Linked DNA regions of Homo sapiens: region 1 is linked to region 2. A link means that fine-mapping ties the variant in region 2 to the expression of a gene that starts in the linked region. Tissue or cell type: whole blood. Region 2 holds a variant in brackets; the other region holds the start of a gene. All regions are shown on one strand. Distances are from middle to middle.

Region 1 (8,169 bases), 110 kb after region 2:
AATAGGAAAAATAAATCCTGTATGAATCATCTGAATTTTACCCTGAATTTTCTCCAATATTAGGGCTAACCTTCCACACTACTGAAAAAGAGGGGTTAAAAAATAGGTTCAGAGATGTGTATTAAAATTGCCCCACTGAATGAGACCATCAAGTGTGAATAAGCCATCATTATTTAAGGAGATCTTGTGGACTGGTTAATGAAATAATTTGGTTGAGTGTCATCACATAGGCATATTTCAGTCAAGATTTTTTAAGTGAAATACAAAATACTTACCTGGTTAATCTGAGACTACTTTCTTCTTGTTGCTGAGGATGGCAAATGGAAACATCCAGTTGTCTCAAACTAACACAATGAAAGTCCATGATTACTTTGCCAACAATTGTTTTATTGGAGGGAGGGCTGAATAAACATGGGGACGCTATTCTTTTTAGTTAAAATGTAAGTGCTAACTCCTATACTGTTTTTCACCGTAATTAATTCTGCAGCCAATTTTTTTTCAAAGGTACATTATTGATGTCATGATAGCTGTATCTTGAATGAAGGGCTGTTGAGGATCTCTAAGTGCAGATCCATTTACCTACATTCACCACCATCCCTCCGAAAGCATCTGACTTTTCATGCTACTTAAAAGCTTCTCTAAACTTTGTACTACACTCAAATTAATCCAAGCCAGAATGGTATTACCCCTACCTGACTGCATAGAAAGAGACTTCAACATTTACGAAAATACAGATGAGCGCACACACCAAAGTGGGTTGAGTGCTGTGAGCAAGGTGGCTGGATTAGACACAGTGTGGCCACGCCAACTGGGTCATCTTTGTTCTATTCTACTGTCAAATAATGGTGGGAGACGTTTTCGTTTATTCATTCAAACAGTCAAAATCACCACACTACTTAGATAGCATTTGATCATTCTGAGAGCACAGACTGGGAAGAGCAAAAGGAATGAATTGGCACAAGTTTAATAGGCTCACTTCCGGCAGAACTTACATATATATATAGCACCTAAGATAATCCATTCCTTCCTTCCTAGTAGATACCTGTTGTTGAGTACGCAAATGGTGTCAGTGCACACAGACAATCTTAAAATGGCCACAAGACAGCAAACTGCAGTCACGCAGTCTAGTGAACAGACATCGTTCAGAGTAAATTTCAAACTCTTAGCCTCTGAGTAAGTTGGAACCCTATCCTATTAGTCCTTCAGAAACTATTGGAGCCTTCAACTTTTGCAAAGACAGAATGTGACAAAAGCACTGTGACAAGAATTTTACTCCCAGGTTAGAAAGTCTCTGTTGATAAAAGGTATTTAGTTCACTGTGGTGACAAACTCATTTAATGGATAGATGATCCCAAAGCTTTACACTGATAAGTGTTTTTGTTGTTTTTATTGCCATAAAAGTTGGAATTTACCTTATTAGTAAATCCAAATGGTCTCTTCATCCAGACCTTAAAAAATCATGATACTCATGTCTTGAATACTTTCCTTACACTTTGTGATCCAAAATCATCACCAACCATCATTTTGATGGCTGGAACATCTTCATATTTAAGTCAATGCAGTCTTTGTGGTGGTCACGGAAGAAACTAGCTGCAAAATATTGTAAGTTGCAAGGCATTTTCTTGAACAATCTGGCATAAGGCAGTAAACTCTATGGCCCAATTTTTCCTCCATAATAAAGCAAGAACAGAAAGCTGAGTTAAAAATAAGCTGCTGAAAGAAAGCGAAAATTTTCCATCGCCGCTCTTCCCCCGTACCTGACTCCCACCTTTCAATACAGCTATTAATCAATCACTCCCTCGCTGAGCTCTCCTTCAGTGACATCTGCTATTTTGCTCTCCTTTGCCATCATGTTCAACTCAGAAGACAGCCTGGAAATTCACGATGGCCAGGCAAGTGGAACTTCAGCTGCTAAGCACTGACCATACTCTCCCTCTCCTAGCTCTTCACGTTTCCTAATTGGGGCCATGCAGAGATGGTGGTGGCTCCCAGGACGAAGTGCCTGAGGACAGTGCCTCTTGTCCTCATATTCTTGTTAGAAAGAATCCAGAATGAATAAGTAAACTCAAGAGCCCAGAGGAGGTGATCCCTGTCTTTCTACCACGGTGACATCTTTCTCTCCCTGAAATTCTTACCTTCCTAGATGAATGCATCTGGAGGAGAAAGAGGGAGAAAGTTGCTGTGATGGGAGAGGCATGATATATTGGGTGAGTAGAGTGAAAGTGGAGGGGATGGGAGGGCATCGTTTCCAGTCTACTTGGAAATAATCCTTCCTTAATATATTTACAGCTAGGAAAAGCATGTGTTGGCTACAACTCAATTAAACTAATTAATCACATAAGTGTCCACTTAAAGAGGCAAGAGTTACACCAGGCTCAGAGAACATTGGCCTCATCCAAACTCATTGCAGAGTTGAGGAACCTAAACCCAGAGAGGTGACACTGACTCCCAAGAATTTAGGATCTTGAACCTGTAAGGGAGCCTAGGAAAAACTTGAATGTGATGACATATTTCGGTGCTTGTTTTGCAATGAAAATGACGTTATTCTATGGTGTGCTTTCTGAAATAAGAATTTGGAGTTGGCTCCTACCATCTTCTTGTCAGCATTAAGCAGTACGAAGGGAAACATACGAAACATACCCCACCTAAGATGTTGAAGACTTTCTCATCAACTCTCCAGTGTTTTCAAACTGATCCAATAGAAAAGATACTTTTTTTCTTATCCAATTTTGCTTTGATGGAATCTATACTTAGTGTTTGTTTTGTTTTGTTTTAATTTTATGAGACAGGGTCTCACTGTCACCCAGGATGAAGTGCAGTGGGGCAATCACAGCTCACTGCAGTCTACTGAAACTCCCTGGCTCAAGTGATCTCTCAGCCTGCTGACTATCTGGGACCACAGGCACAGGCCACCACGCCCGGCTAATTTTTGTATTTTTTTTTTATAGAGACGGTGTCTCCCTATGTTGCCCAGGCTGATTTCGAACTTCTGGGCTCAAGCTGTCTTCCGGCCTCGGCCTCCCGAAGTGCTGGGACTACATGGGTGAGCCACTGCTCCCTGCCAACTTTTTGTTTTTTAACCTAACAAAAATGTTTCACAAATTAATGCCAAAATAAAACAAACGTTTAGCGGCCATCAAAGCTATGGAGAGACTCTATTATAACTTGAACCGCTGGGGACGTGCCGCCTGAGAGCACATCCAAGCGACACCGCCCTAATTGCAATTCCAGCATGGAAGAAAAAAGGAAATGTTGTCCCGTGTTATGAATGGCTTCAGCTGCTCTCTATGCTGCTGTTGCATGTTTACTGAATCGAGGTTCGAATTAAGCAGGCTGCCTCCATTGCGGACAGGTCTGAGACATTCTCATTTGGCCCCGAACGCCTGGACCCCAGCGAGCGGGCGGTTCCCTGGCGGCGGTGACCACCGTTGTGCTCGCTGCCTCCACGCGGCGCCCGTCAACCCCACGTGCTCGCAGCCGCGCGGCGGGGCCGGGCGCCCGGAGCTGACCTCAGCCCCCAGGACAGAAAGGGTGGCCAAACGCAGACCTGGCAACCCCCCGAGTCGGCGACCACAGATTGCTGGTGGCTGCGCCACGGTTTCGGGAGGGTCAGCCCCTCGCTGGGTTCTCAGGGCACTAAGAAAAGAGGGGCATGCGAGCCTGGAAGCTGGAGAGAGTCCGGGGCTCCCCAGAGCGGGTGGGACGCCGCGTCCCCAGGACTCCGCGCCACGCGTACTTTCTCCACCCCGACACCCACTGCCACTCCCACAGCGGAGCGAGGGGCCCCGCCGAGGGCGAGCGTACCCCGTGCGGCTGAGATGCCCGGAACGCCTCCCCGCGCCCCGGCTTCCCCAGAAGGGGCCACAGTCGGCCCGCGAGTCCCCGGGCGGGGGCTGAGCCGCAGTGCCAACCAAGGCGAGGTCACCTTGGCCCGCGCGCCTTTCATTCCAGGGCCCCTCCGGCAGAGAGGTGACTGCAGGTCACCGCCAGCCGGGCCCTTACTCCCCGCCTCCGCCGTCCCGGCCCCCACACCCCGGAACCTCCCCGGCGGAGCCTGCGAGCCCGGGAACGCGGTCCCAGCCAGAGTGGAAGGGATAGCGCGGGAACCCGGCAGAGAGAAAAAGCGGGAACTGGGCGCCGCCGCTTCACGATCGGGAGGAGATTCCCTCCCGGCCCCTCCTGGATCCCACTCCGGGGACCGTTTCGGGGCTAGAGCCCAGGCTGGGAGAGTCCCTGGGCGCATCCACCGCCCCTTCCAACTTCCTTCTTCTCATCCTCAGTTCGGGTGGCAGTGGCCACCCGCCGGGTCTGCAGGTGGAGGGGAGTTTGCGCGCAAAACTTACGGTCGGCGGCGGCCACCCCTCCGCGGGAGGCGGTCAGACTCTGGAGCCACACGGCCAGAGTCAGCACGAGCAGGGCTTTGCTCTCCATCTCGGGGCGCGTCCCTCTGGAGGAGCTGCAAGGCGCGGACCGACTGATGAGCCGGCTGAGCCGGAGGCTGGAGAGGGCTGGAGCCGCGGTTTGGCGCTGAGCAAGTCGCCCTTTAAAGGGGATGGCAGGGCAGCTAGAAGTGGGCAGCTTTCCCTTGAGGAGGAGGAAGAGGGGGAATCGAGTCTGACACTGTTTTCACGCCAAGGCTGCTTATGTGACTGGAAATATGCAAATAAACCTCATCACCTATTGGCTATAAAATCATAAGTTGGGGGGAGGGACCTAAATTCACTTCTAAACGTTTGAGCAAACAGTAATGAGGATCAACCCTGCCAACGAGAAGAGGGGGAAAGGGCAGACGGAAAAATTTGCTTTGTTAGGCTCCTGTTCGCTTAGCTTAAGGGGTTCCACTCTACCCGGGGGCCCCCTGTCTAAGCACCAAACACAGGTTTACATCGATTCACGTTAAATACTCAACAATCACCTGTTTTCCAAGGAGGGAAAGTTTAGCTGTTAAATTACATTTGATCGGCACTTTAATACACCTCTCTTTTGACGAATCCTGTTTGTCACTTGCAGTCCTCCCTCACTCACCCCGCACCCCATCCCCACCCCCGCAAAGTCAATGTAGGGATAGAGGGACACACATTGCGTCCCAGCTTGTGCTTGTACAATCTGGTGTTTTAACATTGGCAAGATGGATCAGCTTATGTGATGGAGAAAAGCCTACTTGCTCTAACTAGTTTCTAATTTTTGTCTCATGCAAATTATTCTCAATCCTCAAACTCATCAAGGAATGCAAGGATAATATTTTATGTTCAGAGGCAGAACATCGAGGTCAAATAATCTAAAGCCGTATTGAGTTATGATAAGTGAAAGAAGATAGTCGCAAAAGACACATATTGTATGATTCCATTTAAAGTGTCCACAAATAGACAAATCCATAGAGACCAAAAGTAGATCAGTGCTTGCCTGGGGCTGGGTAATTAATAGGGGAAGGGAAGAATAGAGATTTGGGGGTAGTTGATGACAATGTTCTAGATTACATTATGCTGATGCTGCACAACTCTGTAAATATACTAAAAGCAACAGAATTATGCACTTTCAATGGGAGAATTATATAGTGTGTAAATTATAGGTCAGTAAAGCTATTTTTAAATGGATAAGAGGCATGCACATAAAATAAGAAAAAAATAACATTAGATACTATGCTTTTCTGCCAAAATGCTTGGAATACTTTTAAATATCTTTTTAAATATAAGGGATTTACATTAGCCAGGAAGGACAATGAAGTGTATCCCCAACCCCCTCTCAGTTTATGGCTGAGAAACTGGCTCATCAAATCAGAACCTCCAATCTACTATATTTATGGTCTGAATATTTTTAATGTCCCCTTTTATTCATCCCACCCTCCGTCACACACACACAAACATACAATGCACAATTGTAGGTTAGAACAATGAAATGCTTTTTAAAAAACTGGGCTCACTTTTTAAGTTTTTCTCAAAAAATGAAATAAAAGTTGATAATACCCAAATATTTCAAAGGTCTCTATTCTGCATAACAATTCTATCTTTAAGTTGATGCATTCCGTGCCACAACACAACACACCGTCTTGTATTGCAATTATTACACAATATACTGTGCACGTTCACTCTAACCTACAAAGTATGTAGAGAATCTTGAAACCTGCCAAAAATTAAACTTCGCAGAACTTTAGAAGTGGCAGAACAGACCATGCAAGGGATGAATAACTATGATATGGCCGTCCTCCAAAAATCATGTAGTAAACTCTAATTTTAAAAAATGACAGAAGATGAATACAATTGCATTGGATGTGTTCATGGTGTGAATGGCATATAAACAGACGTGCAGAACTGCCTGCTATCTTATATAGAATACTCCTGCAGCCTATTTTCATGCATAAATGTCCTTTGATAAGACAACCAAATCAAACTGCACTTCTGTGCCTTTCAGAAAACTGCAAGGAGATTTTATATAATTGCTAAGGGAAAGTCTGATACTTATAGCGTATTTTTAAAATGATTTCCCAGGCTAACCAGATAACAAAATTAAAGCACTCAAGAGTTGGAGGATATGTAATATTTAAATATGAATCCAGTTTGGAGTGAACTGTGCCATTAGCACGTCCAATAGAGTTGCTGAGATTTCCAGGAAGACTTAATTTACAGCAGCTTAGCCTGGTTAAAAAAAAAAAAAAAGCAAGACAGGTTGGCTCCTCTCCCAGGGCCAGCGCGGAGCAGGTGGGTGTGGCGGCAACGTTCTCTCCTGATTGGCTGCACTGGGAGCCATCAGGTGCCCGCCTTCTAACGCAGAAACTCACATGATCTCTAGGTCAGGATTGCATGTGCATTAGTGAAGCGACTCATCCAAACTTTGGCGAGGTTACTCGGCCTTCAGTAGCTCAAGGCTTGACTTTTTCCATAATTGGCATTTCCTTTGTAACAAACTAAGTTTTAGGTGAGAAGAAGCTAACAGTACCCCTTTAGCAGGACACTTGCCACTGGGACACATTTAAAATTACCTAAGTAAAAACTTGAATGTGCATATCTAATGAAACAACTGGAAATTCTGGATGTAGGGAAGCATTATTTAGCTGGCCAGCCAGCTAGCTAGCTAGCTTGCTTATTTTGATTGAAGGCCTGCTAATTGCACTGGGCACTTTTCATCTTCTACTGTGTTTAATCATTACAAAAGCACTCCAAACTCAATAATATTCCCCTTCTACAGATGAGGGAAGATGAAGCTCAGGGAAGATTAAATAACAGCAACCACAAATCATAAGATGTTTTTTCTTTGGCGATCCTAGCCGAGAAGCAAATATGTATTTGATGTGCTATATTTTAATGTTGCAGCAATTGCAAACAGGAATAGGCTGGGAATCAGATTTTTTTTGTACACACATATTTTAATGTAGATTTTTATTTTGTGGCTTTCTTACTAAAGTAAAATACAATGAAATGTGTAAGTAGGCTCTAAAGAACATCAGTACTGAGTCGGATCTTGTCCTTATAAAAAGTATAATTAATGTAAGAAAACATACTAATACAAATAAAATGTATAAATACAAAGTCATAATTATTTAAAAATATTGTAAAATCTATTGAATTTTTAAAACATTTTATTATTATTATAGTTTGAGTTTTAGGGTAAATGTGCACAACGTGCAGGTTTGTTACATATGTATACCTGTGCCATGTTGGTGTGCTGCACCTATTAACTTGTCATTTACATTAGGTATATCTCCTAATGCTATCCCTCCCCCTCCCCCCACCCCACAACAGTCCCCAGTGTGTGATGTTCCCCTTCCTGTGTCCATGTGTTTGCATTGTTCAATTCCCACCTATGAGTGAGAACATGTGGTGTTTGGTTTTTTGTCCTTGTGATAGTTTGCTGAGAATGATGTTTTCCAGTTTCATCCATGTCCCTACAAAGGACATGAACTCATCATTTTTTATGGCTGCATAGTATTCCATGGTGTATATGTGCCACATTTTCTTAATCCAGTCTATCGTTGTTGGACATTTGGGTTGGTTCCAAGTCTTTGCTATTGTGAATAGTGCCACAATAAACATACATGTGCATGTGTCTTTATAGCAGCATGATTTATAATCCTTCGGGTATATACCCAGTAATGGGACGGCTGGGTCAAATGGTATTTCTAGTTCTAGATCCCTGAGGAATCACCACACTGACTTCCACAATGGTTGAACTAGT
Region 2 (8,202 bases):
TCACTGTTTCCTGACATATAGCTCCTAAAATCCTTGGATTTGGGGTATCTTGTATACTAATGAGATGACTGGTGGCTGAGAGCCCCTAGATCACTTCAAGATAGTGGCTGATCAGGAGAAAGACCAAGGCATGATTAGAGGTTTGGGACTTTTGGCTCCACCCTGCATCACCCTTCCCAGTCTCTGGGGAAAAAAGTGGGGCTGAAGTTTAAGTTGATCCCAGTGGCCAATATTTAATCATTCATGCCTACATAATGAAGCTTCCATAAAACCCCAAAGGACTGGGTTCTGGGAGGTTTCTGATAGCTGAACATGTAGAGGTTCCTGTAGGGTGTTACTGTGTCCGGAATTGGTGGGTTCTTGGTCTCACTGACTTCAAGAATGAAGCTGCGGACCCTCGCGGTGAGTGTTACATTTCTTAAAGGTAGTGTGTCCGGTGTTTGTTCCTTCTGATGTTCAGATGTGTTTGGAGTTTCTTCCTTCTGGTGGGTTCGTGGTCTCGCTGGCTTCAGGAGTGAAGCTGCAGACCTTCGTGGTGAGTGTTACACTCATAAAGGCAGTGTGGACCCAAAGAGTGAGCAGCAGCAAGATTTATTGCAAAGAGCAAAAGAACAAAGCTTCCACAGTGTGGAAGAGGACCCCAGTGGTTTGCCTCTGCTGGCTCTGGCAGCCTGCTTTCATTCTCTTATCTGGCCCCACCCACATCCTGCTGATTGGTCCATTTTACAGAGAGCCGATTGGTCTGTTTTATGGAGAGCTGATTGGTCCGTTTTGACAGGGTGCTGATTGGTGCGTTTACAATCCCTGAGCTAGACACAAAAGTTCTCCACGTCCCCACTAGATTAGCTAGGTACACAGTGTGGATTGGTGTATTTACAAACCCTGAGCTAGACACAGAGTGCTGATTGGTGCATTTACAAACCTTGAGGTAGATACAGAGTGCCGATTGGTGCATTAACAATCCCTTAGCTAGACATAAAGATTCTCCAAGTCCCCACCAGATTAACTAGATATAGAGTGCCGATTGGTGCACCCACAAACACCGAGCTAGACACAGGGCGCTGATTGGTGTCTTTACAAACCTTGAGCTAGATACAGGGTGCTGATTGGTGTATTTACAAACCTTGAGCTAGACACAGAGTGCTGATTGATGTATTTACAATCCCTTAGCTAGACATAAAGGTTCTCCAAGTCCCCACCAGACTCAGGAGCCCAGCTGGCTTCACCCAGGGGATCTCGCACAGGGGCCGCAGGTGGAGCTGCCTGCCAGTCCCGTGCTGTGTGCATGCACTCCTCAGCCCTTGGGCGGTTGATGGGACCTGGTGCCATGGAGCAGGGGGCGGCGCTCAGGGAGGTTCAGGCTGCGCAGGAGCCCACGGCGGAGTGGGGGAGGCTCAGGCATGGCGGACTGCAGGTCCTGAGCCCTGCCCCACAGGGAGGCAGCTAAGGCCCCGGGAGAAATCGAGCACAGCAGCTGCTGGCCCAGGGTGCTAAGCCCCTCACTGCCCAGTTCCCAGTGCAGGGCCTGCTGAGCCCACGCCCACCCAGAACTCGCACTGGCCCACAAGCATCGTGTGCAGCCCCAGTTCCCACTCGTGCCTCTCCCTCCACACCTCCCCGCAAGCTGAGGGAACCGGCTCCGGCCTCGACCAGCCCAGAGAAGGGCTCCCGCGGTGCAGCGGCAGGCTGAAGGGCTCCTCAAGCATGGCCAGAATGGGCGCCAAGTCCGAGGAGGCACCCAGAGTGAGCGAGGGCTGCGAGGGCTGCCAGCACGCTGTCACCTCTCATTATGACTGGAGAAGGCATGGACGCTCCTGTGCCCCTTTCCCCATGCCTTGTTCTATGCACCTGTTCCATCTGGCTATTCATCTGTATCCTTAGTAATAGCCTCTAAAATCAAACAGAAAATGCAAGTAAAGTGTTTCCCTGAGTTATGTGGGCTGCTCTAACAAACGAATCAAACCCAAGGAGGGGATCATGGGAACCCCAATTTAGAGCTGACTGGGCAGAAACACAGGTCACAACCTATACTTGCAACTGGCATTTGAAGTGGAGACAGTCTTGGGGACTGAGCCCTCAACCTGTGAGATCTGACACTATGTCCAGGTAGACAATGTCAGAATTGAGTAAAATTAAAGGGCCCAGGCAGGGTGGCTCACACTTATGATCCCAGCATTTTGGGAGCCCAAGGCAGGAGGATCACTTGAGGCTGGGAGTTTAGACTAGACTGGCCAACATAGCAAGACCTCATCTCTGCAAAAAATTAGCCAAGTGTGGTGGCATGTGCCTGTAGTCCCAGCTACTGGGGAGGCAGAGGTGGGAGGATCCCTTGAGCCCAGGAGTTCAAGACTGCAGTGAGCTGTGATTGCGCTACTGCACTCCAGCCTGTGCCACAGAGTGAGACCCCGTCTCAAAAAAAAAAAAAAAGAAAAGAAAAAAGAAAAATTAAGAGGACACCCAGCTGATATTCACTGCTGAATTGATTGTTTAGTTGTTGTCTTGGGGAAAATCCCCACACAGGTGGTACCAAAAGTGTTCTGTGTTGATAATTCAGACCAGCTAAAACTCTGGTGGTTATATTAGCAACAGGAAGAAGGAAAGGCGGCCATTCAGGGAGCATTACTGGTCTCTGCCACAGCCATCCAGTAGGCTGTTATGTCCTCTGGTGAAGACTCAATACATGAACAAGCAGTTGAACTTATTAACCTAACCATGACTTCAGGTTCTCTTTCATAATACTTATTCAGATGTTTTCATCTCTAGGTAGAAGTATTAGAGATTTTTCTTAATGTAATTTTAAAATATCAAAAATACTTTGTATAATGAAAGGAACAACAGACACTGACGCCTACTTGAGGGTGGAGAGTGGGAGGAGGGAGAGGATTAAAAAACTACATATCAGTACTAGGCTTATTAACTGGGGTGATGAAATCTGCACACCAAACCCCCGCGACACACAATTTACCTGTCTAACGAACCTGCACATGTACCTCTGAACTTAAAATAAAAGTTAAAAAAAAAAAAAAACTTCATAAAAAAAAAAAGTCACGAGATCAAATTTTCAGGAATGGAAGGTTGTCATCCCGGGAAATTTTTATGTACTTTTATTCTCTCAATGAAAATAAAAATTGACGGGCTAGGCGCGGTGGCTCATGCCTGTAATCCCAGCACTTGGGGAGGCCAAGGCAGGCGGATCACGAGGTCAGGAGATCGAGACCATCCTGGCTAACACAGTGAAACCCCGTCTCTACTAAAAATAAAAAAAATTAGCCAGGCGTGGTGGCGGGCGCCTGTAGTCCCAGCTAGTCAGGAGGCTGAGGCAGGAGAATGGCGTGAACCCAGGAGGCGGCACTTTCAGTGAGCTGAGATCAGGCCACTGCACTCCAGCCTTGGTGACAGAGCGAGACTCTGTCTCAAAAGAAAAAAAAAAACTGACAATGATGAGAAAATTAATTTAAAAAGCAGAAACAGTGTGATTCGGTCTCAGGATCTAGTCTCCTCACTTTTCGTTCATCACTGAAGAGCCCTAGGAACAAGAAAAATAAGGTATTTTTAGGTGGTTTTATTTAAAGTATAAAAGGCACACTAAGGGCTAGTGATAGCATGTTAATGCCC[A/G]CAGTGACCTCAGTCATTATTTAAACTTATTTCCTCATTTTATAGGTAAGGGAAAACCCAAGAGAGTTGATACAAATTGTAGATACTGGCTGGGTGCCGTGGCTCACGCCTGTAATCCTAACACTTTGTGGGGCTGAGGCAGATGGATTGCTTGAGCCTGGGAGTTCGAGACCAGCCTCTGCAACATGGCTAAACCCCGTCTCTACAAAAAATACAAAAATTAGCTGGGCATGGTGGTGGGTGTCTGTAGTCCTAGCTACTTAGCAACCTGAGGTGGGAGGATCACCTGAGCCCAGGAGATAGAGGCTGTGGTGGGCCGTGATTGTGCCACTGTACTCCAGCCTGGGTGACAGAGTGAGACCCTGTCTCAAAAAAAGAAATGAAACAATTTTTTTAAAAAAAGAAAGTTGTAGATGCCTTGCAGCTAGTTAGCTAAAACTCGAACTAAGTTTCCTGATTCTGGTCCAGATTGTCCTGCCGTGTCATACAACCTCTCATTGGTTTGAGTCAATTTCTCCTTTCTCACACATCTGGTTCCAGTCACTACACAGTCCACGTAATGCCTCTATCCCTTCCACGTTATCTGAAAAGAAGTGCGTTAAAAAAACCTCACAACAACAACAAACAGTTGTTGAAAGTATTTAAGTTATGTTTTTGAATCCCTTTCAAAGTAAAAGGAGAACACATGATATCTCAACTCTGGCATCTCCACCTCCCCTCATGCTTAGAGATGATTGTTCTGCCTTTGCCAAATTCCATTAGAAGTCACTGCCCAGATTCCAGTGCCCTTGATGATGTCAAAATAATGTAAACCTATTTATGTCAACAGCTTCCAAGGCCTCTTAGAAAAAAATGAAATCAAGCTGCAAGAGATAAGCCTATCTTTTGAACACTCTTTCCGCTTTGCTATGAAAGGGACCCACTTTATTTTACTTATTTTTGCTTTTATTCTTTTAGATTTTTATTGTTAAATATTGCAAATATAAAAATAAGAACAGAGAATAATGTAATATTCATATATCCACCACTGAACTCAAAGGACCCTTAATATTTTGCCATATTTGCTTCAGATATTTTCAGATTTTTTTAAAGGATATAAAACATTAGAAATGCAGTCAAGGCCTGATTCCATCTTTCTCACTTCCTCCTCTTTTTCCTTCTTTAGAGGTAACCACTGTCTTGAACTGAGTTTTTATTATATTTTTCGTTTTATATTTATTTAATAAAAAGCTCAGGTCTGTCTTCTATTATTTATTTTAATGGTAGTTTGGATTTTTCTCCACTGAGGTCTTTCATACTTGTTTATCTGTTAGCTTTATTCACTTGTCCATTATCATATTTGTTGCTATTATGCATGGACTTCTTTTTACCTCTGCTCTTTCAAAGCTATAGAAATATTTCTATTTTTGTTGTTTGTTTTCAAGCTTTGTTTTGTTGTTTTTGTTTGTAATTTAGGAGGTGTATTAGTTTTCTCTGGCTGCCATAACAAATTAGCATAAACTTTGTGGCTTAAAACAAAAGAAATGTATTTTCTCACAGTTCTAGAGGCTAGAAGTCCAAAATCAAGATGCAGGCAGGGCTGAACTCCCTATAGAGGCCCTAGGGAAGAATTCTCCCTGGCGTCTTCCAATTTCTGGTGGCTGCCAGCATTAGTTAGCTTGTGGCCCCATGACTCCAATTTCTGCTTCCATTACCTTTATTGCATTCTCCTTGTTCATATGTCATCAAATCTCCCTCTGTTTCCTTCTTAGAACACTTGTGATTAGCTGATGAATTCTCTTTATTACTTCTGCATCTTATATCTGAGAATACCTTTATTTTGCCTTCACTCTGGTGATACATTTGCTGGGCGCACATCCTGTTTACTATTATTTTCCCTTAACACTGTAAAATATTACTCTATTGTCATCTATTGTAGGTAAGTATGCTCTACATTCAATTCTTTGTGGGTAATTTACCCTTTATTTAAAGAGTGTTTAAGATTCTCTTTATCTCTAATGCTCTACGTTTTATCCTGCCCAGTCCTGAGCACCTTCGATCTGAAAATTCACATATTTATTTAATTTTGGGAAATTCTCATTAACTAATTCTTCAAATACTGCCTCTCCATCATTTCTTTCATTCTGTCCTGCCAGAGCTCCTGATAGTCCAGTGTTGGAAATGAATGCCTTTCAAAGTGTCTTAGAGCTGCTATTTACTTGTTTATTTCTTTGTCTTTCTGTGCCATCTTCAGTTTAGATTTATTTCACTTCTCTAATCTTCCATTTCACAAATTCTCTCTTCAACTGTTCATTCAAGACTTAAGCATAGGCAGCATTAGGATGTTATTTTAAAGCTAAGAGCTCTGCTACCAGCTTGTCTAGATTCAAATTCCACTTCTATTCATTATCTATTGGGCTTGGAAAGTTACTGGCTTCTCTGGATCTCAGTTTCCTCATGTGTAAAATGGGAATAATATAGTTAACTCCTAGTGTTTATGAATCTTAAGAGAGCCAATATATATATGAAGCATGGAAAATAGTTCTTGGCATAAAAAATATTAACTATTACTAACATTGGTCTATTAACATCTAAATTTATTACAAAAACATTTTAATGTTAAGACTTAATTTTCATATCCTTCTTTGCTGTTCTTAAAAGCAATTATATGTTATTTTTAATGCAAATTTGTCTTTGCTTATCTCTTTTGAACATCATAAACTTCCTTATTTTATTTATTTATTTATTATTATTATACTTTAAGTTTTAGGGTACATGTGCGCAATGTGCAGGTTAGTTACATAACATCCTTATTTTAAAGTCATTTTCATACTGCTCCAGGAAGTAAATTTCATCTAGAGCAAATTCCTATTCTGAGTTTTTGGGTCTGTTGGCTATTTTATTAAATGTCTTTGGTTTTGTTGCATAACAGGCTCATTTTGAAGGGGGATTTTTTTTTAAATCTCTCTCTTGCTTCACATGCACCCTTGGCTTATCTTTTTCTGACCAATTGTATGGTGGTCTCCATCTGGCCCTGCAGACTTCCAACTAAGAAGCAGAGTCTAAATTGTAGTTTGAAGTTCATTCTTACCCTAGACTAATACTGGGGGTACCAAAGAGAGTGTCACAGAACAAATCCTGTAACCACCCAATGGGTTCACCTTGCCCACTGGCTAGACAGAGCTGATTTATCAAGACAGGGGAATTGCAATAGAGAAAGAGTAATTCACACAGAGCCGGCTGTGTGGGAGACTGGAGTTTTATTATTACTCATATCAGTCTCCCCACACATTCGAAGAACAGAGTTTTTAAGGATAAATTTCTGGGGTATTGTTGGGAGTAAATTCTATTTTAAATTCTGAGTAAATGTTACGCTATCATTCCACCAGCAATCACCTAAGGCAAGTTAAGAAGCACTGGTGAAACTTAATAGCCACATACAATCGAAGTGTGAATGAAATGAATAAATATACAAATAAACTATGTAGCCATACCTACACATACATCATGCACTCGTTCTGTTACTGAAATGCCAGGGTTTCAGTCTAGGTTCTGTTACTTGCTGCACAGAAAGCCAATCACTGTGGCAATGAGTATTGCCAGGGAAGGAGGCTTTAATATGCTGCGGTCAAGGAGATGGGAGATCAGTCTCAAATTCTTCTCTCGGACCCACTAAAATCAATGTTTTATATAGCAGGGAAGGAATGTAATGATATGCAGGAAAACAGGAATGGGGGTGGGGCGGGTGGTAAGGAAGAGGAATTGGTCAATAGGAAGCAGGTGGTCAGGCAGTCGTGGTGGGTGAAGGGTCTGGCTTCTCATTGTCCAGATGTGATAATCTGGTAAGTTTCAGTTCCCTGATACTATCTGGGAGTCCTGATGGTTAGTTTCCTGAGAAAGGAACTCAGATAAGTGTAACTTTCTCAAGTTTTAAGACTGGGAGGGTCAATTTCTATGTTTATTCAAAAGAAACCATAAGCATCAGTTCTATGGGATAATTGAAGTGGTTTCCTTTCCACATTAACGTGTGTGTATGCATGTATGTGTGAACATCTCACAGTAACAGCTCACTGTAGCCTCAGCCTCCTGGGCTCAAGGCAGTGATTGCTTGAGGCTAAGAGTTCGAGACCAGCTTGGGCAACACAGTGAAACCCCATATCTTTAAAACAAAACAAAACAAAACAAAACAAAACAAAACAAAACATTAGCCGGAGGCTGGTGTGGTGGTGTGCTCCTGTAGTCACAGCTACTCAGGAAGCTGAGGAAGGAGGATCACTTGAGCCCACGGACTTAAGTTTGCAGTATGCTAGGATTGTGCTACTGCACTCCAGTCTGGGTGACAGAGCAAGCCCCCGTCTCCAAAATTTAAAATACAATATAAAAAAATGTTCATATCTGATGCACCCTGGGAAATTTGCAACATTCTTGAGGTAAGGTAAATGTTATCTCTGTTTAGTAAATGAAGAAACTAAAGGTAGAAGGTGCTTTGCAAAGCTCTTTTACAAGTGAACCTGTAGTAATCTGGTTTGAACCCAATGAACGTCTCATTGAGGCTGAAATAATAAATTTTGACATTTCTATTTCCATTCTGAGTTTATAAGTTCTTGT

What was found. PIP is the estimated chance that this variant, and not a neighbour inherited with it, causes the effect.
Region 1: LPL starts here. The variant in region 2 is fine-mapped to the expression of LPL in whole blood (TOPMed, PIP 0.99).

What each region holds. Positions count from the first base shown.
Region 1 is chr8:19,935,703-19,943,871 of GRCh38, reverse strand. It overlaps LPL (lipoprotein lipase), which reads right to left and starts at 4,619. Exons shown (of 10, transcript NM_000237.3): 1 at 4,344-4,619. The coding sequence starts at 4,431.
Region 2 is chr8:20,048,195-20,056,396 of GRCh38, reverse strand. No RefSeq gene overlaps it. Among named protein-coding and RNA genes, the nearest start is that of LPL, 110 kb to the right of the region's middle. The variant A/G (reference allele first, on the strand shown) is at 3,616.